3 linked regions of the Homo sapiens genome follow. The protein of the gene in region 3 interacts with the protein of the main gene of each other region in a pairwise test. Each region holds a gene or a part of one and is shown on either strand. Other genes may lie near its edges.

Region 1 (7,871 bases), on a different chromosome or scaffold from region 3:
TCCTTACTGCAAGGGAGTCTGGGAAAGCAAGTATCCAGTGTTTTCAGCTTTTATAGTGGGTGGTGATTTCTGCCAGAAATTGTAACAAGGGGACAAGGGGTGTTTCAGATTTGGGGCAGCCAAAAAGCGAGCAAAATCCATCTTTGAGGTGAGCATTTAGGCCAATAGAAGAAAGTAGATTTCAAGTGTTAGGAACAATAGAAGCCCAGGGTAGAGGTTGAATAGAGTATGGCATTTGAGCCCAGTGGAAACAAGTTTAACTGGATTAAAGGGTGTGCTCTGGGAAAATAGTTTGAGAAAAGTTGAAGGAATAGGATGGGACAAGATTAAAGATTACTTTGAAAGTCAGGCAGAGGAATTTAAATTTCATATGGGAATGTTGGAGCCAGTAAAAGTTTTTGAACAAGAAAGTGTCCTAAAAGGAAATGGTACTTAAGGATTATTAATCTGGCAGCACTTCTAGGGGTATCTAGGCATTTTCTGTCATAATTTAGGTGTGGGGTGATAGATTGGGAGTAGAAATAAAAGACAAAGATTGTATTTAAGAGAAGATTTGAAGGAAAAAAATCAATAGGACTTCTTGAAGAGAAAGAAGTAGAGGCTATTTCTGAAACTGAGCTTGAGTGACTGATCCCACTCTTCATTTAGAGCTAGCAAAGCTGAGGAGGGACCCAGTTTGGAGGAAGCAGAAGAATGAATTTTAGTTTGGGAATTGCTGAGTTTGAGGTGAGAGATATTGAGTAAAAGTGGTCCCTGTGCAGTTAGAGTTGGGGACCAAGAAGTGGAAAGAATTGCACTCAGGCAGAAAGGCTGTGAAGGGAATGGAACAGAGTGTGCCAGAACCCTCAGGGTGTTTCTCAGCTCTTGTTTACGGGCCACCAGGTATACTATCTTGAATTTAATTTTAAGTGATACGTTTGAACCACAACCTCTACCTTTTGTTTCATAAAACGTCAGTTCTCACACCCTAAGACACATTGATGCAAGCTATCGATGCTATTACTATTTTACATGGTCTTCTTCCTGTTATTCTAATATATTTGGAAAGAAAATGATTAATACATGTGAGGCTTTTCTTGGTAATTTTCAATACTTTTGAATGTTTTGAATACAAGGAGAATAATATACTAAAGCTAGAGACCTTAAACAAGACCGAGAAAAGACTGCATATAAAAAGCAAACCTCCAGTTCATTAAAATTGTAAGTTGGAGCTCTTGGCTCCATGGCAGGGAGCCTTGGATCAGTAAGTATAACAGCTCCCTTCCGTATTGTACTTAGAAAAGAATGATCATAAAACCTACTTAGGCCTCACAAGGTCTTTTTGAGCCTTAGCCAATGCATTTAGTCACTGTCAGTAACCACAAGCTTTAGTATAATATTCTGGCTTGCAAAGCAGCCAGGTCTCCAGAGCATGACGATAGGCTCTTCTATACAACTTGAAAGCTGTTGCTGAGGCATACCTTCTTGATATTCCTCTTAGCACTTTTCTCTAGTCTATAGCAAGTCTGTACCTGTAGATGACAGTGGATTGCTCAGATATTATTAAAGAGTATGCAAGTATCTTAACAGGAAACAGCTTACCCTTTGGGTAATGTGTGATACAGTGAAGAAAATCCCTTAAATGGTTGCCCAATATTTATGCTGCTGGCATGTTTGCTGGGATATTTTTTCTCCTCTGAATTAGTATTTTGAGTCCTTGGGCTCTTCAGTTTAATAGATAATGTTTCTATGTTTAAGTGTAGAAGATCCACCATGTTAGCTGAAAAGTTCCAAGGCTTTTCTGTCTCTGTAACATTTCTCTGCCTAAAGAGGTAGCAGGTTGAAAATTTAGGAAATAACTTTGCGTCAAAAAATTCATCAGCCTTTCTAATCAATTCGATTTTAAAGTGAAACAGTGATGAACTTTGCATTTATCAGAATTCATGTTTTTCTCATGGATTTAACAGCCCTTTGCAACTCTGCTTCCTTGGTTACATGATAGAAAGAGTATCTGATCACATCAGAATAAAATCGTTTGGGAAGACATCCGTGTGTCATAGATTATGTAGCTTGCAACAGGATTTAAAGCAAAAAGATGGTAGAATATCGGATCTATCATTATTTTTGCAGTGAATGTTTCACCAGCTGGTTTGAGAGAAGTTTTACACCCCTACCAGGCTTCCTCTTACCTCATTTACCGCAAAAACCACAAGTCCTAACAGGCAAACTGTAATTGCCTAAAACAAAACTAGTAAGGTATAAATGCATGTGGAAATGATTATTTGAAGGCAAAAGGCAAATAAATGTCACCAGTCTGAGCCATGACCTAAGCATCCTAGGTCTAGTAACCATTCTTTTGGTAAGGGATAATGCCAACTTTTTTATCAATAGGATTCTGTTAAAAATACAAAGAAAAACAGTCAGCAGGATACTGTATCTATACACATACATATATGTATATACACATATATGTATATATATGTATGTGTATATATAGATATAAAATACTTTTGTTTCATTTTAGAGCTGGTTGAACTTCAGTGGTGGGTAGAGCTTGTTTTTAATTTATATAATTTTTGTAGTACAATTTTAAAATATTATTTTTTTAAATGAATCCAGGAGCTGTGCGGTCTTATGCATTGGAACTTAATTTGACAGATTCAGAAAATGCCACTTGCCTTTATGCAAAATGGCAGATGAATTTCACAGTACGCTATGAAACTACAAATAAAACTTATGTAAGTATATATTTTAATTTTTCTTTGAGTTTTATAGTAGGAATTTAATTGACTTTATCCTTTAGATACACGTATACAAATGAAATTCCACGTTGACTGACTTAATGCTGAAACTCTGGGATTTTTTTTAAGCATACACACTCAGAAGTTATTCTGTTTAGTGTTAGAATGAATATTTCTTCTGATTCATTGGTTCTTGGGAGTTTTTGTAGGACTTGATTAAGGGCAAATGATCTGAAGACGACTATATGGTGTTCAGGTCTAAGTATTTCTGTAAAGTGTTTAAAATGTACTAGCACCAAAGCTTGCCCTTTTAAAAAGCAGCTTCCCATCTGGGCATGGTGGCTCATGCCTGTGATCCCAGCATTTTGGAAGGCCAAAGCAGGAGGATTGCTTGAACCCAGCCCGGGCAACATGGTGAGACCTCATCTCTACAAAAAAACTTTAAAAATTAGCCAGGCATGGTGGCACACACATGTACCTCCAGCCACTCGCTGGGCCGAGGCTGGAGGATTGCTTGAGCTCAGGAGGTTGAGTCTGCAGTGAGCCATGATTGTGCTACTGCACTCCAGCCTGGGCAACAGAGCGAGACTCTATCTCAAAAAAAAAAAAAATCGCTTACTTAGGTTGGTACAAAAGTAATTGCCATTAAAGGAACAAACCACAATTACTTTTGCACCAACCTAAGTAAGCGATTTTTTTTTTTGGCACAAACTGCAATTACTTTTGCACCAACCTAACACTAAAATCTCCCCCTTTTTGACATCTCCTCTTAATTCCTTTGCCTTCTTATTTTCTTTTTGTTAAGGTCCTCACTACTTACAACCTAATTTTTTAAAAAATCAGTTTAAGAACAGCAGCTCAAGCCAGTTTTCCTTTTCTTTTTAGACATACACGAATTTATCCAGAGGAGTGGTATGTAGCAGAAGAATCAGGGACTGGTTTACACAGCAAACCAGGCAAAGGGCAACCTGGCCATGGAGAATGTATGATTTAGGCTGAAGTGGCATGCCCTACATAAATGCTTGGTGTTCCTTGCTGCCTGTTTGTTTCTCACCCCCAAATTTCTATTTCTTTTAGAAAACTGTAACCATTTCAGACCATGGCACTGTGACATATAATGGAAGCATTTGTGGGGATGATCAGAATGGTCCCAAAATAGCAGTGCAGTTCGGACCTGGCTTTTCCTGGATTGCGAATTTTACCAAGGCAGCATCTACTTATTCAATTGACAGCGTCTCATTTTCCTACAACACTGGTGATAACACAACATTTCCTGATGCTGAAGATAAAGGTAACCTTAAGAATGGATTTGTGTTATGTTCTCTTGCTTTTTATTAATGATAAAAATGTAAACAATTTTAAAATTGTTATGAATGTCTGTCTTCCTAACTAGCATGGAAACTTCATGTCTTTATAACCCTCCCACTGACCCCATGCATGGCACATATGACACCATCCAACATACTGATGATATTTGCTGTCATTGCTTGAGTGACTTACTGTATACCAGGTATTATCCTAGTATACAGTAAGTCACCTTACTATATATATCCTAGTATACATATATATGTGTATATATATACATATATATGTATATCCTAGTATATATGTATATATATATATACACATATATCCTAGTATATATATACACACATATCCTAGTATATATGTATATATATATCCTAGTGTGTGTGTATATATATATATATATATCCTAGTGTGTGTGTGTGTGTATATATATATATATATCTCCTAGTATACAGTAACACACCTAGTGTGTTACCTGCAGCATCTCACTTAATTCTTAACAGCAACCCTGGGAAGTAGATGTTGTTTCATTTTTACAGGTAAAGGAAATGAGGCTTGATAAGATTAAATGACTTTTCCAAACATCACACAGTCTGGTAAGTGGGCGAGCTGGTGTTTGAAGCAGTCTATTGACCTGCAGAATTCATATACTTAACTATTATTGATTTCATTCAGTAGTGTGCATGAAACAAAGGTTTGATGAATGAGAAAATGCTTTACTAATAGCTACTTTATTTTCAAGATCGGGGGTTGGGGGGGGTGTCTCACTATGTTGCCTAGGCTGGTTTTGAACTCCTGGATTCAAGCGATCCTCATGCCTCACAGCCTCCTGAATAGCTGGGACTACAGGCATGCACCACTGTGCCTGGCTACTAATAGCTATTTTAAATGTGTAAAAGTTAAGTAACCTGAGACTAGGAGAAATGCCTCTTGTTCAAATCTTTTTATCATTTAGGTTGGATTTTGATTGAAAAGTAAATGATGATTAGTTAAAGGTGTAGTAGTCCCTCATTACACTCAGGGGGTATCATTCTAAGATCTCCCGTAGATGCCTAAAACTGCAGTTACTACTAAACCCTATACAGGAAATGCTATGTTTTTTTTTTTTTTTTGATCTGATAACTGACATGGCTACTAAGTGACTAACGGATGGATAGTGTAGACAACGTTGATATACTGGACAAAGGGATGATTCATGTTCCTGGTTGTGCAGAGCGGGACAGCAAGAGATTTAATCATGCTACTCAGAATGGCGTACATTTTAAAACCTATGAATTGATTACTTTTGGAATTCTCCATTGAATATTTTCAGAGCTCAATTGACCATGGGTAACTGAAACCAGGGAAAGCAAAAACCGTGGATAAGGGGAGACTAAAGTCAACATTTGCTGTTATTTTAAGACAATTTCAGGTCAAAATGAACTTGGGAAGCATTGGCAATTAGGCCATTCTAGTAATTCCCAGAACTGAAATGCGTGTTAAAATATTTTGAAGATATAGAGTGTAGAGATTTTATTTTATTTTATTATTTTGAGCTGGAGTCTCGCTCTGTCGCCCAGGCTGGAGTGCAGTGGCCTGATCTCGGCTTACTGCAACCTCCGCCTCCCAGGTTCAAGCAATTCTCCTGCCTCAGCCTCCTGAGTAACTGAGATTACAGGTGCGTGCCACCACGCCCGGCTAATCTTTGTATTTTTAGTAGAGACAGGGTTTCTCCATGTTGGCCAGGATGGTCTCGAAATCCTGACCTCACGATCCACCCACCTCAGCCTCCCAAAGTGCTGGGATTACAGGCGTGAGCCACCGCACGTGGTCGAGATTTTAATTTTGTTAGGGATATAATTCTCTTCTTTCTCCCCCTGCCCGTTGAGATTGAGTTAATGTGGTATTTGTAGTAGCTTAGCTCTTTGCAGATAGTGTTTCATTCTGACCCCAGAAACAGGTAGATGGGCTTTAGTTGCCTAGACCTGGGGATTAATAACTCATTTGGACTTAAGGATGTCAAAAGATCCTATTCGAAAGAACCAGAAGTAAATAAGCTCACGTAAAATTTGGGAGGTATTGCAGAATGAGACTTGGAAATCAAATCCTAGTGTTCTTTTTACTAATCTCTTAGTTTGAGAGTATAACTAAAGCAAATGGTTATTGGCTATCTTATCAGTTTATCTTTGTGCCCTGTTTTGCCTTTCAGAGCTAGTATAAGATATGCCCCTCACTTTCAAGTAGCCTAAGAATGAGCTGGGGAGACAAAGCTAAATGCTATTCCCGAGTTACATGGAAAAATTGGAAAACATTGAGCTCAGTCTGATTTTGTTGTTGTTGTTTGCGTTTTTGTTTGAGGGAGTAGAGGGTTCATAAATCTCTTCTGACAGTGTGAGGAAAACTTTAGACTCCCTCTCAAAAAAGAAAAAGTACACAGTAAACTTTGCATATGGAACATAGTCCCTGAACCCATATGTAGATCCCTGTGGTTAAGAGTGCCTGATTTAGGTCGAGAATGGTAGCTCATGCCTGTAATCCCAGCACTTTGGGTGGCCGAGGCAGGCTGATCACTTGAGCCAGGGAGTTCAAGACTAGCCTGGGCAACATATTAAGACTTTGTCTCTACAAAAAAAAAAAAAAAAAAAAAGCCAGGTGTGGTGGCGTGTGCCTGTGGTCCCAGCTACCTGGGTGGCTAGGGTGGAGGATCGCTTGAGCCCAGGAGGTTGAGGCTCCAGTGAGCTGTGATCCCACCACTACACTCAGCCTGGGTGACAGAGAGAGAGAGACCCTGTCTCAAAAAAAAAAGAAAAGAAAAAGAAAAGACTGGCTGATTTAAAAGTGTTCCCGTGTTCCCACAAGTGGTCCTGATTAGGAGGAGTGATAAAGGAAGGCTCAGTGTGTGTTAGAGTAGTGAGAAAGCTTGGTAGAGAAGTAGGACCTGAGCTGAAACTCAGCTAATGGTAGAATTTGAGTAAGCGGAGGATTTTGAGCAGGATGTTTCCAGCAGGGGGAAGCATAGCATATGCGGCAGTAATTGGAGAGCTGCCTGATTAAATCAGGCTGTGTGTGTAGCAGAAGGAAAATAAAGTTGGCTAAATGAAGTGGGCCTAAATTATAGGGGGCCTTGGAAGCCAAGGAAAGACATTTAGCTTGATGGGGCAGGCACTGGGGAATCATTTTAGGTTTTTAAAGCAGGAGAATGATATAACAAAAGCAGAGACAGTAGCTTATAAAGAATATTCTGCAGGATTAGTTGAGAAGTGAGGAGGCTACAAGCAGAGATGCTGGCTTAAGAAGCTGTTATAGTAATCAAGGGCTGATGTAATAAATGCCTGGACTACAGGGGCATCAGTTGTTAGCAGTTATTAGGAGGAGGTGTTTAATCTGACATATTTGGATAGAAAAACTATGGACCCTGAAATGTTAACACTTCTCTCTTTCCCCTTTTATTTAAAACAAAGGGAGGATTACTTTTTAAATTACTACCTTCTATATAATAATATTTGAAACTATTTGGAATGTTAAATGGCTTCCTGAAATGGACTATTAATAATTGTTTTTGATATAGTTCAGTGTTTCAAGAATACTAATTTATGGCTGGGCGCAGTGGCTCACACCTGTAATCCCAGCACTTTGGGAGGCTGAGGCTGGTGGATCATTGGAGGTCAGGAGATTGAGACCAGCCTGGCCAACATGGTGAAACCCTGTCTCTACTAAAAATACAAAAATTAGCCGGGTGGTAGTGGTGCGTGCCTGTAATCCCAGCTACTCAGGAGGCTAAAGCAGGAGAATCGCTTTAACCTGGGAGGCGGAGGTTGCGGTGAGCCAAGATTACGCCACTGCACTCTAGCCTGGGCAACAGAG
Region 2 (7,871 bases), on a different chromosome or scaffold from region 3:
ACAGACCCCAAATCAGGCCCCTCATCCCCTTCCGGGCCATGAGACCTCAGACAACTGGCTTAACCACTCTTAGCCTCAGTTTTCCCATCTGAAAAATGGGGATAATCATAGTACCTACCTCAAAGTACTGTGAGGCTCAAACGAGATTACTCGTGAAAGTCTAGCACAGGGCCCGGCACAAAGGGACTGCTCTGTAGGTGGCAGCTGCTCTTATTGTCATAATTATTATTATTATCTTACTAATATCACCATTACCTCTATTGTTACTGAGCTGCCTGGATTCTTTCTTTTTTTCTTTTTTTTTTTTTTGTTTTTTGAGACGAGGTTTCACTCTTGTTGCCCAGGCTAGAATGCAATGACGCAATCTCGGCTCACTGCAACATCTGCCTCCCGGGTTCAATCAATTTTTCTGTCTCAGCCTCCCGAGTAGCTGGGATTACAGGTGCCTGCCACCATGGCCAGCTAAGTTTTGTATTTTTAGTAGAGACGGGGTTTCACCATGTTGGCCAGGCTGGTCTCGAACTCCTGACCTCAGGTGATCCACCCGCCTCGGCCACCCAAAGTGCTGGGATTACAGGCGTGAGCCACTGTGCTGGGCCTGCCAGGAATTTCATAGGTCACCTGCAGAGGCAGGGACACCACGAGGCAACCTCAGTGTGACCCCTGCTGGCAGGTCTCCGCAGCGTTCTGGTGACACTGCTTTTTCCAAGTGGTCACGAGGCCCGGCAGCGCCACCTGGTGGAGCTATGGAGACACGGAGTCGTCCAAGTCCTGGGAAACAGAATCCTAGAATCTCTGGATTTTGAACATTCTTGAAGGTGATGGAGTGGGATGAAACCCCACTTTACAAGTGAGAAAGTGAAGCTCAAAGAGGTTATGTAACTTGCCCAAAGTCTCACAGTCAGGCTGCCAGGGGTCTTACCACACCGCCCCACCCGAAATATTTTCATTGCATTCTCCCTAGCCACTGAAGCAACAAATGAATGCTAGCACCAAACCAAAAACAATAATATATAAAAATGAACACTTTGTTATTCCTATCATTAGGAACGGAGTCAAGTTTGCCTGAGGCGGATTCTACCTCCTAAACACCTCTGAACCCCACACCCCTCTTCCCCTTCTCCACTGTGACCTTCTTAGTCTCAAGGTCATCATCTTTCCCCTACAGTATTAGAACAAGCTCCTTATAAGCTCTCTACCTTCATTTTCCTGCCTCCAATCCATTTTCTTAGTTTTCTTTTTATTTTTCTTTTATTTATTTTTTAACTGATTTTTTTCTTCTAATGATATCCTGGAGTCATATTCCAACCCATTTTCACAGTGAGTTTCTAAAGCAGGTGGCCGGGCGCAGTGGCTCATGCCTGTAATTCCAACACTTTGGGGGGCCGAGGCAGGAGGATTGCTTGAGCCCAGGAGTTTGAAATTAGCCCGGGCAACATAGCGAGACCCTGTCTCTATTAAAAAAAAAAAAAAAGATAAAGCATAAATCTGAGCCTGTTGCATGTCTGATTTAATAAAAAGAAAAACCCCTCACTAGCACCCACTGGTTAGAGGATCAAGTCTACACCCTTGAAATTGGCATTCAAGGCCCCTCCCTGGGGATGCCATCAGCACTAGCCCCCTGGGATAGCTCCCTCCTTTCCGAACATAGCGAGTCCCTCCTGGAATGCCCATCACTCTCCGCTCTTCCTCTCCGGCAGCAAAGCTCTACTCCTCCTCTGAGACCCAACCCAAAGGTTCCCATCTCTGTGCAGGCTGCCCTGACCAACCACCCCCACTGCTTCCTGTGTCTGCACAATCCCCTGTGCTCCCTCCCATCTTCCACTGATCACACAGGTCTGTGGCTATGGTCAACTCCCCTCCCAGACCAGGCACTCCTCGGGGCAAGGTGGGGCCAAGACACTTGGCTCAGGGCCTGATACACAGGGTGCATTGGCTGTAAAAACTAAGTAACACCAAAGAATCTCAGCTACCAAAGTTGTGCAAACCTCAGAGAGAAACCTCCTTGGGGAAGCAAGAGGCAGTGCATGGGGAAAGTGAGGGAGGGGCCTGGACACACCCACCCCACGCCCTAAACGTACCTGTTTCTGGCCTGTGCCATCGTCATCCATGCCGTGCTGGGCGGCCATGGCAGTGGAGGTGTGCAGGGTGGCGGCGTCGAAGGGCACCCGCTCCACGTTGGCGATATGGCTGGAAAGGTAGGACAAGCCCAGGCCATCTGTCTGGTCTGGGTCCCGCCAGTTCTTGAAGAACTGCTTGAACAGTGGGGTCTCACCGCCCTCAGGAAGGACCGAGACCTGGGGAGGGGAGGCAGAGGAGCAGGATGTGGCTGGGCTGCCCAGCAGGGGTCCCCAGGGGAGCCTCAGATACCCCATCCACACTGAGGGTGGGACACCCGCCCTACTCCAGCCCATCCCCTCCAAACAGGACCCACCCCTTCCCATCCTACCTGGCCTCCAAGACTCACCTGAGTCTGCTTGGGGTAGTCCATCTTGGTGATGAAGTCAGAGGCTGTTTTGAGGGCAGCCTTCCTCTCCTCCGTGTTTGCCTGCTTGCCTGTTGGCAGCCAGAGGAAGTGATGGAGGGTTAGAGGCCCGGGATCCTGCTGCATCCTGACCTTTAACAGTCCAGGAGAAGGAGCTGCCAAACTTCCCTCCCTACTCTTCTTAGACTGTGGACAGCCAAGGCCAGAGACCCCCAGAGCCGACCACTCACTAGAGCTCCTGGTGTCCAGCCTGGGGCTGGCCAGTGACACCAATCACAACACTACTGTGGTCCATTTAGTGAGCATGTATTTTGTGCTTAGAACTATGCATAGATTATTTAATTCACAGAATAGTCTTAAGTAATAAAAAAAGTTGTTATCTTTTTCTGAGTATCTATAAGGAAGCTAGGGTCTTAGAGAGATTAAATTACTTGACCTAGGTTACTCAGTGAGTGAGAAGCTGCCACCCTGAGGGCATTCCCGTGCCAAGGAGCTCCTGGCCAGCCAGTGCTGGGCCTCAGTCCCAGCCTTCTCACTGCCAAGGCCAAGGTCCAGATCAGCTGGCCCAGGGCCCAGGGGGCCTAGAGAGTAATAATCATAATAGTGTCTCTCTCTCTCTCTTTCTCCCCACCGTCTCCCTTTCTCTCTGTCCTCCTACTGCCTCCCTCTCCTCTGTCCTCTTCCCCAAGATGAGCCTTAGAGAATCAGGGGAGGATATTGATGGGTCCTCTCAGAACATCTCAGGGCCTCTGGGAAACATCTGGGCCAATGGTTTCCAAGAGAATTCCCACAAGATAGTACCGAAAGAGTTTATGAACTTCTAGCTTAGCATTTCCCAAACCAGATCATCTTCATGAAAAGCCCCCCTGTAAATGAACAAGTTAAAAGTCCTACAGTAAACAAACTCGAACATTTTAAAATCCACTGTTGCCCATGAATTTATCTGACCATACAGTTAGATGTTTTCTACATAATTTCTACAGGATGCCAATTAGCCTCTCAGAGAACTGACGTTATAATGCACTTGGGAAACACCCATTTTAGCCCAGATCAGGAATCTGAGGCCCAGAAAGGGTAAGTAAAGTGCCCAAGATCACACAGTATGTCAAATGCAAAACCAAGGCCTCAGCCCAAGACTTCTGATTTCCATTGCACCAGGCACACTCCACACTCCCCGGGAGCTGAGTTCCTGGGAGCTGCAGAACATCCCATCCAAGATCCTACAGGCCAGTTGGGACCCTTTCCCTGTCTCCAGTACCTTTCCAGACAAAGATTTTCCCATCTTTGCCGTGGTCCAGGATGAAGCAGTCCTCTGACTTCAGGGCCCCCTGGGCGAAGGGGTTCTCATCAGCCACGAGGGAGACGGACATGGTCCCTGCACCATTGGAGACCTGAGGGGACGAAGCAGAAGGAACCAGCACATGAGTGTCTGTGGCCGCCCAGCCCTGAGACTTCCACCATCTTGCCCCACCCCCTGTCCCAAATGGCCCTGTAGAGTAACACCTGGGCTTCCTCTCGCACACATTTAGAGGTTCTTTTTCGTTTTCTGCTTTGTCAGAACCACATCTGCTGACCTACACGCAGGGGTAACACAAACTGCACATGGGAAGGGAGGGCGGGATAAAATTTGGGGAATTGGGTGCAGAGGGGAACTGCATAGTTTGCTGAAAATGTATTCAACTTTACTATTCAAAAAAAAGAGAAGAGGCCGGTTACAGTGTCGCACACCTTTAATCCCAGCGCTCTGGGAGGCCCAGGTGGGTGGATGGCTTGAGCCCAGGAGTTCAAGACCAGCCTGGGCAACATGGCAAGATCCCATCTCTACAAAAAATACAAAAAGTAGCAAGGTGTGGTGGCGCTTGCTTGTGGCCCCAGCTACTTGGGAGGCTGAAGTGGGAGGATCACTTGAGCCCAGGATGTCGGGGCTATAGTGAGCTATGATTGCGTCACTACACTCCAGCCTGGGTAACAGAGCCAGACTCTGTCTCAAAAATAAATAAGTAAATAAAAGAGAAGAAAAGAAAAAGAAAAGTAAAAAGAGCTAAATGCAATCTGGTATCCTGGATTGGAACCTAGAATAAAAAACTGGGGAAATCTGGCTAAAGTCTATAGTTTAGTTAATGGTACTGAAGCAATGTTAATTTCTTAGTTTTGACAAATGTACCTGGTTATGCTAAGATGCTAAGGAGAAGCTGAGTGAATGGTATATAGGAACTCTTTGTACTATCTTTACAATTTTTCTGTAAACTTAAAAATTATTCTAAAATAAAAAGTTCAACCAAGCTCAAAAAAAAGTTCTATCTTAAGAGTCAAAATTCAAAAGTTTAACAATATCCAGTTGGCAAGGCTCTGGGTAAACAGGCATTTAAGATCCCTGATGACAGTAATTTGGGAGCTGTTCCAGAGTACAGTTGACTGTGAGGTAGCAGTCCTTTAAATAATAATTATTCTACATGAATTGAGTACTTACTACTCTGTGCCAGTCACTGTTCTAAGCAATTTCTATAACTTGTATAATTATAGAACCCCTTTAATCCTTGCATATGATAGTTCTGTTACTATCCCTGTCTCATTCACAAGGAAACCAAGGCACAGAGTGGTTAAGGAACTTGCACAGCTAGAAATAGCTGACCTGGAATTCAAACACAGGTAGTCTGACTCCTGACTCCAAAACCAGTATTTTCTTTTTTTATTTTATTTATTATTATTATTTTTGAGACGGAGTCTCACTGTTGTCGCCCAGGCTGGAGTGCAATGGCACTATCTCAGCTCACTGCAACCTCCGCCTCCCGGGTTCAAGTGATTCTCCTCCCTTAGGAGGAGAGCTAGGATTAGAGGCACCCGCCACCACGCCTGGCTAATATTTTGTATTTTTAGTAGAGACAGTGTTTCACCATGTTAGCCAGGCTGGTCTCGAACTCCTGACCTCAGGTGATCCGCCTACCTCGGCCTCTCAAAGTGCTGGGATTACAGGGGTGAGCCACCATGCCTGGCCCAGAACCAGTATTTTCAACTACTGACTCATTCTTCGGCCTGTGACCAGCAGTTCCTTGTCTAGGAACTTGCCCTAGTGCTATGCTGTACTTAGCACAAGTGCACCAAGAGGGACTGTCTGCAACTGGAAAAGGTGGAACATCCTAATGTCCATCAATCAGGATTTGCTTAAATTCTTACATTCATAAAATAAAATACTATACAGCTGTTATAAAGGGTCGTGTTGAGATTTATTATAGAAAGATATTCCCGACCATGTTGAGTGGAAAAAAGACCACACAACAGCATGAATAGTTTGGATCCAGTTACACAAAATAGAAATGGCCGGGAGCGTTGGCTCAGGTCTGTAATCCCAGCACTTTGGGAGGCTGAGGTGGGCAGATCACATGAGCCCAGGAGTTTGAGACCAGCCTGGGCAACATGGCAAAACCTCGTCTCTACAAAAAATACAAAAGTTAGCTGGGCGTGGTGGCGTACATCTGTAGTCCCAGCCACTTAGGAGGCTGAGGCAAGAGATCGCTTGAGCCCGGTAGGCAGAGGTTGCAGTGAGCTGTGATTGTGCCATTGTACTGCAGCCTGGGTGACAGAGCAAGACCCTATCTCAAAATAAAATAATAAGATGGAAATGGAAAAGTAACTAGGCACAGAAAGCTGTGGCTGGACAAAGATGTGTTCTCTCATGAGGAGGAGAGGCTGATTTTTTAACTGGGTATTGTCATTTTTGTAATTAAAACATATTTTAAAAGTAATACTGGTTTTTTAAACCAGTGAAATTGCATGGACTTTTATTTTCTTTTTATATTTTGAATACTTTTTTTTCTTACAATAAACATGTATTACTTCATAATCAGAAAAAAAATCGATAATGTAGTAGTTTTTCTTTGGCAGTGGTGAAAATCGACATCCCCTTTTTGTTGTTTTACTGAAAATACTTGGGGCACAACGTAAGTGTGATTGAGCTTTCTCCCAGAGCTCAGCCAAGAGAGTTCCCTAGCTGAAGCTAAGCCTGAATTCAGTTGTGAAAATCACAAGAAAGAAATCATAAATAAAGTCATTAACTATAACCCACACCCCCAACCTCCCCACATACACACCATTTCTGTAGTATTTCCCCAAGTATTTTCTAAGCTGTTTTCACATCCATTTTATCTGTGGACTCCCAGAAATCCTACAAAGTCGACCATTCTGCTCTTCTTCCCACTTTACAGACTAGGACACTGAGACTCAGAGAGACCTCATGTATGAGCGTGACACAGATATGTACGGAGTTGATCGCATGCTCTTAGTGCAGGAAAGCAAAGGAAGTACACGAGCATCCACTGGAGACGTGAGAAAGCTGAGGCCCCCCTCCAAAGGGGTGCTTTGCTCAAGGTCCCATAGCAGTGGAGTGGGGAAGACCAAGTCTTCCACCTCCCTGTCCTGACCCCATGCCCAGGCAGACAGTGCATCTGGTGCTCACCTTGTAGAGCTTGGCCAGCTTGCGGTTGGCCGCATCCTCCTTGGCGGTGTCCTCGGTACCTGCAGGCAGAGCCGGCTTGGGGCCCAGCACCTGTAGGAGATAGAGAGATGGAGAGGAAGGGTGGCTGTGAGGGAGGGGCCAGGCTCCTGAGATAGCTCCCAGGCAGGCAAGGATCACAAGGACATCCACTGTGACCCTCCCCATGGAGTCTGACCTCCTCCAGACACATCCTGCATCTGCTCACATGTCCAGATCTGTCCATCAGAGGTCCCTTCCACCTTGTCTCCCTGACTCAGAAACTCCAGGAGAACACTCCTGCTCCTCTGCCTCCAGACAGCGCTTCAGATATTTCGCCTACCGGCTAATTGTGATAACTATAGCTACTGAACACCTTCTACCGCCTACCTTTAAAAGATGTCACTGCATCCTCGCAGCCAGGCCAGGAGGCACAGATTATCACTCTCATTTTACAGAAGAGGAATCTGAGGTCCAGAAAGATGAAGTCACCTACTCACACAGCTATTAGGTGGCTAAGCCAGAATCTGAACCTCCATCCCTGTGGCTTCAGAGCCTATTTTCACTCCCACTGTCCCTCCCAAGCCATGGTTGGTGTCCAGGTCCCTTCCCATAATAATAATCACCATTCTGCTCTCTCCAAAAGCTGGAATTGGATGCCCCCAGAGAAGCAGGAACCAAGTGACATGGAGCAGAGCTCATGGTCTTCTCCTTTTCCTAGTGAATCTTGCCTCTATTGATACGTCCTCAACGCACAATGGCTGGCAATCCCACCATGTGACTAAATGGGCCAAAAACTACCAGAAATAGTCAGAAGAGAAAAGAGGGGATTGGGGCTCAGTGGTCTCTTTCTGACCTTATTCTAGCACAAAGCTGGCCCTCTGGGGATGCTAAGAGACTGCCCTCCTTAGCTCTGCA
Region 3 (8,417 bases):
TTCATAACAATAAAACCTGCAGGATTATTCACAATAGCCAAGATATGGAATCAACCTAACTGTCCATCGGTGGATGAATGGATAAAGAAAATGTGGTATATCTACACAATGGAATACTATTCAGCCTTGATGAGGAAGGAAATTCTGTCATTTGTGATAACATGGATGAACCTGGAGGACAGAACTCAAATGTTTGTAAACAGAATAGAATTTTTAAATTGTGGTATATTCAGACTATGGACTATTACACAGCAATTAAAAAGCATAAACTACTGATAATACAACATAGATAAATCTCAATGACACTATATTAAGTGAAGAAAACAGACACAAGAGGGCTGTTTATGGTTCCATTTACATGAACAGGAAAAACAAATCTATGGTGATAGACATCAGAATAGTGATAACCTTTGAGGATGAGGTGGGGCCCAAGGGAAATTTCTGGGACGATAAAATATTTTGATGGAGACCGTGGTGGGTATAGACATATACAAAATTCACCAAGGTGTACCCTAAGATTTATTAACGTTTATGTAAGTTATACCTAAGAGAACTTTAAAACCAAAAAAAAAAAAAAAAAAAAAAAAAGAACAAGTAAAAATGGAGACTAGTCCCCTGGGTCTGCCACTGTAGAGAGAGTCAGGCCTGTCACATGCCACCCAGATGACTTTGATAGCCCACCTTAACTTGCTGGGCCTCAGCTTCCTCATCTGGGAATTGGGGATAACAGTACATACCTCAAAGTGTCAGTGTGAGGACTAAATTAAAAGATGCAAAGCTTCAGGCAGTGGCTACTATCTATTAATAGTAAACTCTAAATAAGTATTTACTATCATTACAATGAATGGTTGAATGTTCAGTAATAGGGAAAAGGATGATCACTTTATAAGAATAAAAGTAACAATTTGTTGGAAATGTAAAAAATGTCAGTATCTATATTTAATTTCATTGCTTCAAAACATATATATGTATGTATATACATAAATTTAAAAACTGACAGAATGACAAAGATTTTTCAGCAATACATAATCATGGTGGGAGAGTTTAACATACCTCTCTCAATAAATGCTAGATCACAGATCAACATTTATAAATGTGTAGATGGTTTTTAAACACATTTGCTTGATCTAGCAGACATTTGTAGAATACAATACATTGATTTCAACCATCCATGAAGCATTTATAAAAACTGACATATACTAAGTGCATCAGTTAGGAATTATATTCAGGTGAAATAAACCTCCCACCAAAAACAAAAACAAACAAAAGAAAACTGTACCAGTAAGAAGTGCATATTTTTCATGTATGGGACATCCAGAAATAAATAGTCCAGGGCTGCTGCAATCACATAAATATGCCAATTCTATTAAATCTATCCTAAATATTTTTTAGATTACAGAAGCAAGATGGTTATGACTTCCGGCCACCCTCTTCTTAGCTTGCGGCTTTTACCCTTATGGTCACAGGAGGGCTCCTCTAGGTCTAGAAATCATGTCTACTTGTCCAAAAGGCAAGAAGTGGAGAGATGTGGCTACATGAAACCATCCCTGAACACAATATCTTCCCCAGAGTCACATCCAGTGACTTCTCATATTCATACTAGCCAGGACCGGAGGAAATGGCCTGCCCTTGCTTGCAAGAAGGGCTGGGAGATGGAAGCTTTTTTTTATTATTATTATTTTTGAGACAGAGTTTCACTCTGTTGCCCAGGCTGGAGTGCAGTGGCGCAATCTCGGCTCACTGCAACCTCTGCCTCCTGGGTTCAAAGAATTCTCCTGCCTCAGCCTCCCAAGTAGCTGGGATTACAGGTGCATGCCACCAAACTTGGCTAATTTTTATATTTTTAGTAGAGAGGGGATTTCACCATGTTGGCCAGGCTGATCTCGAACTCCTGACCTCAGGTGATCCCCCAGCCTCAGCCTCCCAAAGTGCTGGGATTAGAGGCATGAGCCACCGTGCCCAGCCGGGAGATGGAAGCTTTTTAATAGTGCACACTGCCAATCTGAACAGAAAACCCAGGTTCTTTTCTAAGGAGGAAGGGGTAATTTGGGTTGGCAGCTAGAAGAATAAGCCACACCAGACCTAATAGCAAATCTCAGCAAATACCTATGACTCAGTAACAAAGAGGCCACATACTCTTCTCACCATGTAATTAAATTAGAAACCAACAACAAAAAGGCAACTAAGAAATAGCCATATAACATGCAGGAACCTTCCAGAGAGATAGAAACATTCTATATCTGGAATGGGGTGGTGGTTACATGCATGTATGCATCTGTCAAACTCATCCAACTGTACACTTCAGATGTATGCATTTCACTATAAGTCATTATACCTCTATGAAAATATATCCACATATTAGTTTTGAAAAATCTAATTCCAAATAATAGATGGGTCAAAGAATAAACGATAATGGAGGTTAAGACAATACTTACAATTAAACCAAAATGAAAATATTATACATTGAAACACAGGATGCAGCTAAAGGAGTATTACGAGGGAAAGTCATAGCCCCATGTGTTTATATTTTTACAAAATGGAAGTTAATTAGCAAGGGGCCCACAGTATGGATGAGACATGGATAAAGGCAGGCTGCCATTCCTAATGGTCTCTCTTCCCACATGGGTTCTTTTGTGTACAGTGAGTGAGGAGCTGTGCCTGAAGGCTTTCTCACACTGATTACATTGATAGGGTCTCCCGGCACTGTGTGTTCTCACATGTACAATAAGATGTGAAGACTGACCAAAGGCTCGCCCGCATTCCTGGCATGCATAGGGCTTCTTGCCACTGTGAGTCCTTGCATGTTTCCTGAGGGATGAGGGCTCACTGAAGGCTCGCCCACATTCCTGGCACACATAGGGCTTCTCTCCAGTGTGAGTTCGCATGTGACTCTTCAGGGTTGAAAGACGACTCAAGACCTGACCGCAAGTCGCGCACTCATACAGTTTCTCCCCTGTGTGTATCCTCTTGTGCACGTTCAGATGAGTGCTCGTCCGGAAGGGCTTGCCACACTGGTTGCATTCATATGGTTTCTCTCTGGTATGGGTTCGCAGATGTGTCTTCAGTGAAGAGTGTTCCCTGAAGGCTTTCCCACACTGGCTGCATTCAAAGGGCTTCTCTCCAGTGTGAGTTCTCACGTGGCTCCTGAGGGATGATGGCTGATTGAAGGCTTTCCCACAATCTTTACACTCGTAGGGCTTCTCTCCTGTGTGGTTTCTCTGGTGCAAAATCAGGTTAAAGTTCCTCGTGAAGGTTTTCCCACACTGACTACATTCAAATGGCTTCTCTCCGGTATGGGTTCTCATGTGTCGCCGGAGATTCGAGGAATATTTGAAGGCTTGCCCACATTCTTGACAGTCAAAGCACTTCTCTGCAGTATGAGTCTTCTCATGCCTGATAAGGTCAGAGCTGTATCTGAAGGATTTTTCACATTTGTTACATGCATAGGATTTATCCCCACTACGGATTTTCTCGGGCACAATTAGGTGGGCACTCTGGAAGAAGGAATTTCTAATCTCTTGACATTCACAGGATGCCTCTCCAGCATGAATTCTCTGGTACTGGAAAAGTGGTTCAATGCTGTTAAAAGGTTTCTCAAGTTCATTATATTTATAGAGTTTTTCTCCAGGCTGAGGTTGCTCCTGTCGATGAAGGAAAATGTGAAGACCAAAGGCCTTATTAGATTCACAGATATTCTCCCCTATGTGAAATGAATGTAAGAAAAAGACAGTTCTATATCTGATACTTTTACCATTTATGGAGTCCATACCATTTCTATCCAGAGTTCCTTCAAGTGGAATAGGGTGGATACTCTGTTGCAAAGAGCTATCTTTTCATTATTTTCATGCAGCTTCTTAGATGCAGAATTTTTCCAATTTGTGTAAGGCTAAATTAAGTCTTAAACACTTTGTATGTGTCATATCTGTGAAAATGCTTACTTGTACGAACATGATCTACATTTAGTTTTCCACCAATTCATGACATTCACGGACTCTCTCCCAAGAAACTGCTTCCTTCTGGGTAAACACTTCTTGCCTCGAATCGCTCTTGGCTCTTGGGCTGCTTTTCTAACTTACGGTTAACCCCAGACTCATCCTACTATAGAGAACCATGAATAATCCCTGGTGAGCCTTACCCCTTTCACATCAATGGACAGGATCTCTGTAAAAGTATCTTGGCTAGGAATTGCCTCTTGGGGTTGACACTGAGGTTCTGAAATGAATTAGGGAAGAAAAAGTTAAGCACACAGAGAAAGAAACTGTGGGATCAAGGTCACCTCAAAAGTAGGCAAGGCACATGTGGACTTTTTTTCCCAAATACTGGTCCTATGTACGGGAAGAAATTGCAATGAGAAGGAATGCATCTAAAAGTTAAGGAAAATTTTAAGGTGTGTGGCTAGATGAGAAGTTATGTAATCAGAGGAACATGGGAAGGAAATAGTAGGTAATTTACCAAAAAAGGATTCTACAAAGATTGTGACTAATGTTGAGGAAAAATATTAGCAAGAATGTACAGTGGGGAGGAAATGGATAAAATATACACATGGAAATATTAAATATGAAGAGAAAGTAGGACAGATCTTTCTAGGAGATGAATGCAAAGTTTTAGAGATTAAAAAGGAAAGGGAAAAAGGAAAGAAGGTGGCATTTAATAAGGGAGCTCAACCAAACAGGCTTCTCAGTCAAAGGTATGAATAGGTTGCCCTGATAAGACAGTTTCCAAACTGGACACTCCCCTTACTGACCAGAGCTGATGCTCACCTGATCTGCCTGGGCTCACCTGCACAGGTGTCTGAGAGGACGCCCCTGTCAGTGGTCCACTGCTCTCCTCTTTCTTCCAAATAAGACAACGCATTGGGTTTGCACAGTTGATCAGCTGCTCATGAGAAAAAAACACATGTTGTGCGAGGACTGTGCCATGCCCTGACACCAGGGCCGATATTCTCAAGTCTTTAGGGGCTCTAGAGATGGGAGTGGCAAAATGCATGTGCCTAAATTCTGATGGCCACAGCCAAACTCTTCCACTGAGCAACTAAATACAAGTTCCCTCACTAGGTCTCAGAGGACACTGAGGCTCTCCGGTCTACAAAACCAAGGGCCTAGCTAAGGAATACCTTTGAGAAGCCCAAAAACTTTTAGTCACAGAAAGACAGGGCAGTAAAAAGATCTTCATTCCATAGAAAGGCCAGTAAGTAGACTGGAAGCTCATGAAGGTGGGAATTATCTTTTTTTTCACCACTAGGTTTCCCAGACTTGCACAATTTCTAGAGCTTATGGTTGGTACATAAATGTGATGAAAAGGCAAAGCCTTGGCCAGGCACAGTGGCTCATGTCTGCAATCCCAGCACATTGTGGGGCTGAGGCAGGTGAATCACTTGAGCCCAGAAGTTCGAGACCAGTCTGGGAAACATGGCAAAACTCCATCTCTACAAAAAAATACAAAAATTAGCCAGGTGTGATGATGCACCCTGTGGTCCCAGCTACTCGGGAGGCTGGGGTGGGAGGATCACCTGAGCCCAGGAAGCGGAGGTTGCAGTGAGCCAAGGTCACGCCATCACACTCCAGCCTAGGCAACAGAGCAAGACTCTGTCTCAAAAAAAAAAAAGGAAAGAAAAGATGAAGCTGCCTTACCCACAGAGGCCAGGTTCCTGTAGTTCTCCAGCATCACATCTCTATACAGGCTCCTCTGAGTAGAGTCCAGAAACACCCATTCTTCTGGGGTGAACACCACAGCCACATCTGCAAAGGTGACTGGTTCCTAAAACACACATCCATCCCGGCTCAGCCAGGGACCACCCCCACCAGTACGCCAGAGGATGCTGGAGGCTGGCAAGCCTGGGGAAGGGAAAACCCAGGCAGAGGACTTTCAGACAGGGTTCTGAGATCCCGCAGAATCTGGCCCTTAGCTCAGGACTCTGAACTAGAACTCCTCTCTCTACTCTCCACTCCTTAAGTAAGAACAGCAAGAGGCAATAACTAATGTTGCAAGTCCTCGACCTCTGGACAGGACTTATCTATTGACAAGGAGCCAGGAAGCTCTTACAGATTTGTCCCCCTTCTAGCTCCAGGGTCCAGCAGACCTGAGCATGGTACAGGCAAGAGGGAACTATCTGGAAAATGACTCAACTCTTTGTTCAGTGAGACCATGAAGACCACAAAATGAGGACAGCTGACATCCTTGCTTTGTTTTCCCTCCTGGTGCTCAGCAGCCTGGGGAGGGTCTGAATGAGGTGGTGGGATCATGGCCCATGCTCCCTTGCTGACACCCACTGCAAGAGGCCCAGTCCCTGAAAGCATGGAGACCAACCCTATGAGATGATCCAGACAGGTCACAGGAAGAAGGTAAGTCCAGCCTTTGGGCACAGCAGTGTTCTTTTAGAACAAGAAGTTCTTACCTACCTGTGAACAGGCGGTTGGCAGCCCAGGAGCCATAGCTTCTTCCTCCACTTTGTCCTCCTGAAGCCAGGCAGGGTCACGTGCAGGCACAGCTAGGGGAGAAGGGAAGAGGCATGAGGGTTGGTGCCTGGCCTACTGGGCACACTCACAGGCCCCAAGTCTGCCCACCCTGGCTGTGAGTGATCACATGTGTACACACACACATGCACACACTCACAGGGACACACACATGCAGACACATATCTGCAAGCTCTTGCACACGCATGCATGCAATCACATGCACACACGTACACAGACATGCACACATATACACACAAACACGCACACATATACACAGTTACATACCACATGCACCTGTTCATATATATAACATATACACACAGACCAGCACACAAAGAGACATATAGACGTGCACACACACACACACACACACACGCACGCCTTCATTCCATATCCCAAGAGCCATAGACTCCATAATTCACCAGGAGACTCCAAAGCTCCTGCAGCCCCCACCACTGTCCCGACTCAGCTTTGGGACAGCTTTTCCTCCCCGGCTGCCTGGCCCCTTTCTCTGCCCCTCTACACTGCAGGGCTAGTGGTGCTCCAGGACTTACCACAAATCAAGGGCAGATAAACCACAACCAACCTGCAAGTCTGCCTTAAAAAGAAACTTCCTTCCCACCTGCCTTCAAATCAACACCACTCCTCGCTCTGCACCAGGCATCCTCCTTCTGGCCTATGACAGACAAGCAAGCAACTCCCAGATCATCCCTCATCCCCTGCATCCTCACCTCTCCCTCCCGATGGGACCTTTCCCCTCACTTTTTTTAAACCTGACCCACACCCAATCCCTGACCCCACATGTGTTTTCTGCAGCTGCCGTAACAAAGTATCACAAACTGAGTGGCTTAAAACCACAGAAATGTATCCTCTCGCAGTTTTAGAGACGAGGAGTCCAAAGTTAAGCTCAGCAGGGCCACGCCTCCTCTGACGCTCTGAGAAGAGTCCTTCCTTGCCCCTCCCTGGCTTCTGGTGGCGGCCATCGACACTTGGGGCTCCTTGGCTTGTGGATGCATCACTCCAATGTCTGCCTCCACCGTCGCACGGTCCCCTCCCTGCGTGTCTGTCTTCACGTGGCGTCTTCCTCTTCTCATAAGGACACAGTCATGTTGGATTGGGGCCCAACCTTGTGACCTCCTAACTTGGTTACAGCTGCAAAGACCCTATTTCCAATAAGGCCACATTCACAGGGTTAGGACTTCAGCATGTCTTTTTGGAGGGGCACAATTCAAGCCATAACACCCCACTTTTCCCTTGGGCTACCTCTATCTCTTCATTCCCTATCATGGGCTATCTACCCTCTGTGCCCACTTCCTCCCCTCCCACTTGCTTCCCATCTCCACCGTTCCAAGGGCTGGCACCACCCTGGAATCACCAGTGACCTCCATCCGTGCTGGGAAATCCCACTGATGTGTGCTCATCATCCAATCTCTCCTGGGTTTGTTGTTGTTTTGAGCCAGAGTCTTGCTCTGTCACCCAGGCTGGAGTGCAGTGGCACAATCACAGCTCACTGCAGCCTCAAACTCCTGGGCCCAAGTGATCCTCCCACTTCAGCCTCCCAAGTAGCTGAGACTACACGTGTGCACCACCACACCCTGTTAATTTTTTTTTTATTTTTTTAGAGATGGGGGTCTCACTATGTTGCCCAGGCTAGCCTTGAATTCCTAGCCTCAAGCGATCCTCCCACCTCAGCCTCCTGAGTAGCCAGGATTATAGCTGCAAGCCACTGCACCTAGCCAATCCCTCCTTCTTGTAGCCCACCCAGCCTGTGATCAGTGATCACAACCCCAGCCTCCTCTTTTTCCTGTAAGAGCTTCTTCTCCAACATGTTGCTGGCGTCCACAGGTTGCAGGCCCTCCTCTTCGTGTCTCCCTCAATTCTCTCTGCCTTGGTGTGCAACCTCACCCATTCTCTGGGTGTCAATTCCCAAACTTCATGATGAAGCCCAAATCTCCAGGCTGA

Evidence for each region. The genes of interacting proteins can lie anywhere in the genome.
Region 1: the proteins of ZNF333 (region 3) and LAMP2 interact in binary tests that used the Homo sapiens proteins (3 or more experiments, as listed by UniProt).
Region 2: the proteins of ZNF333 (region 3) and GSN interact in binary tests that used the Homo sapiens proteins (3 or more experiments, as listed by UniProt).

The regions. Positions count from the first base shown.
Region 1 is NC_000023.11:120,451,497-120,459,367, reverse strand, and holds part of LAMP2 (lysosome-associated membrane glycoprotein 2 isoform A precursor), read left to right. Parts: intron 1-2,598; coding exon 2,599-2,717; intron 2,718-3,797; coding exon 3,798-4,011; intron 4,012-7,871. UniProt on the Homo sapiens protein: Lysosomal membrane glycoprotein which plays an important role in lysosome biogenesis, lysosomal pH regulation and autophagy.
Region 2 is NC_000009.12:121,313,091-121,320,961, reverse strand, and holds part of GSN (gelsolin), read right to left. Parts: intron 7,029-7,871; coding exon 6,939-7,028; intron 3,877-6,938; coding exon 3,744-3,876; intron 2,557-3,743; coding exon 2,468-2,556; intron 2,298-2,467; coding exon 2,082-2,297; intron 1-2,081. UniProt on the Homo sapiens protein: Calcium-regulated, actin-modulating protein that binds to the plus (or barbed) ends of actin monomers or filaments, preventing monomer exchange (end-blocking or capping).
Region 3 is NC_000019.10:14,713,452-14,721,868, reverse strand, and holds part of ZNF333 (zinc finger protein 333), read right to left. Parts: intron 6,488-8,417; coding exon 6,399-6,487; intron 5,758-6,398; coding exon 5,631-5,757; intron 4,876-5,630; coding exon 4,780-4,875; intron 4,213-4,779; coding exon 4,136-4,212; intron 3,701-4,135; coding exon of another isoform or gene 3,642-3,700; coding exon 2,544-3,641; 3' UTR 1-2,543. UniProt on the Homo sapiens protein: May be involved in transcriptional regulation.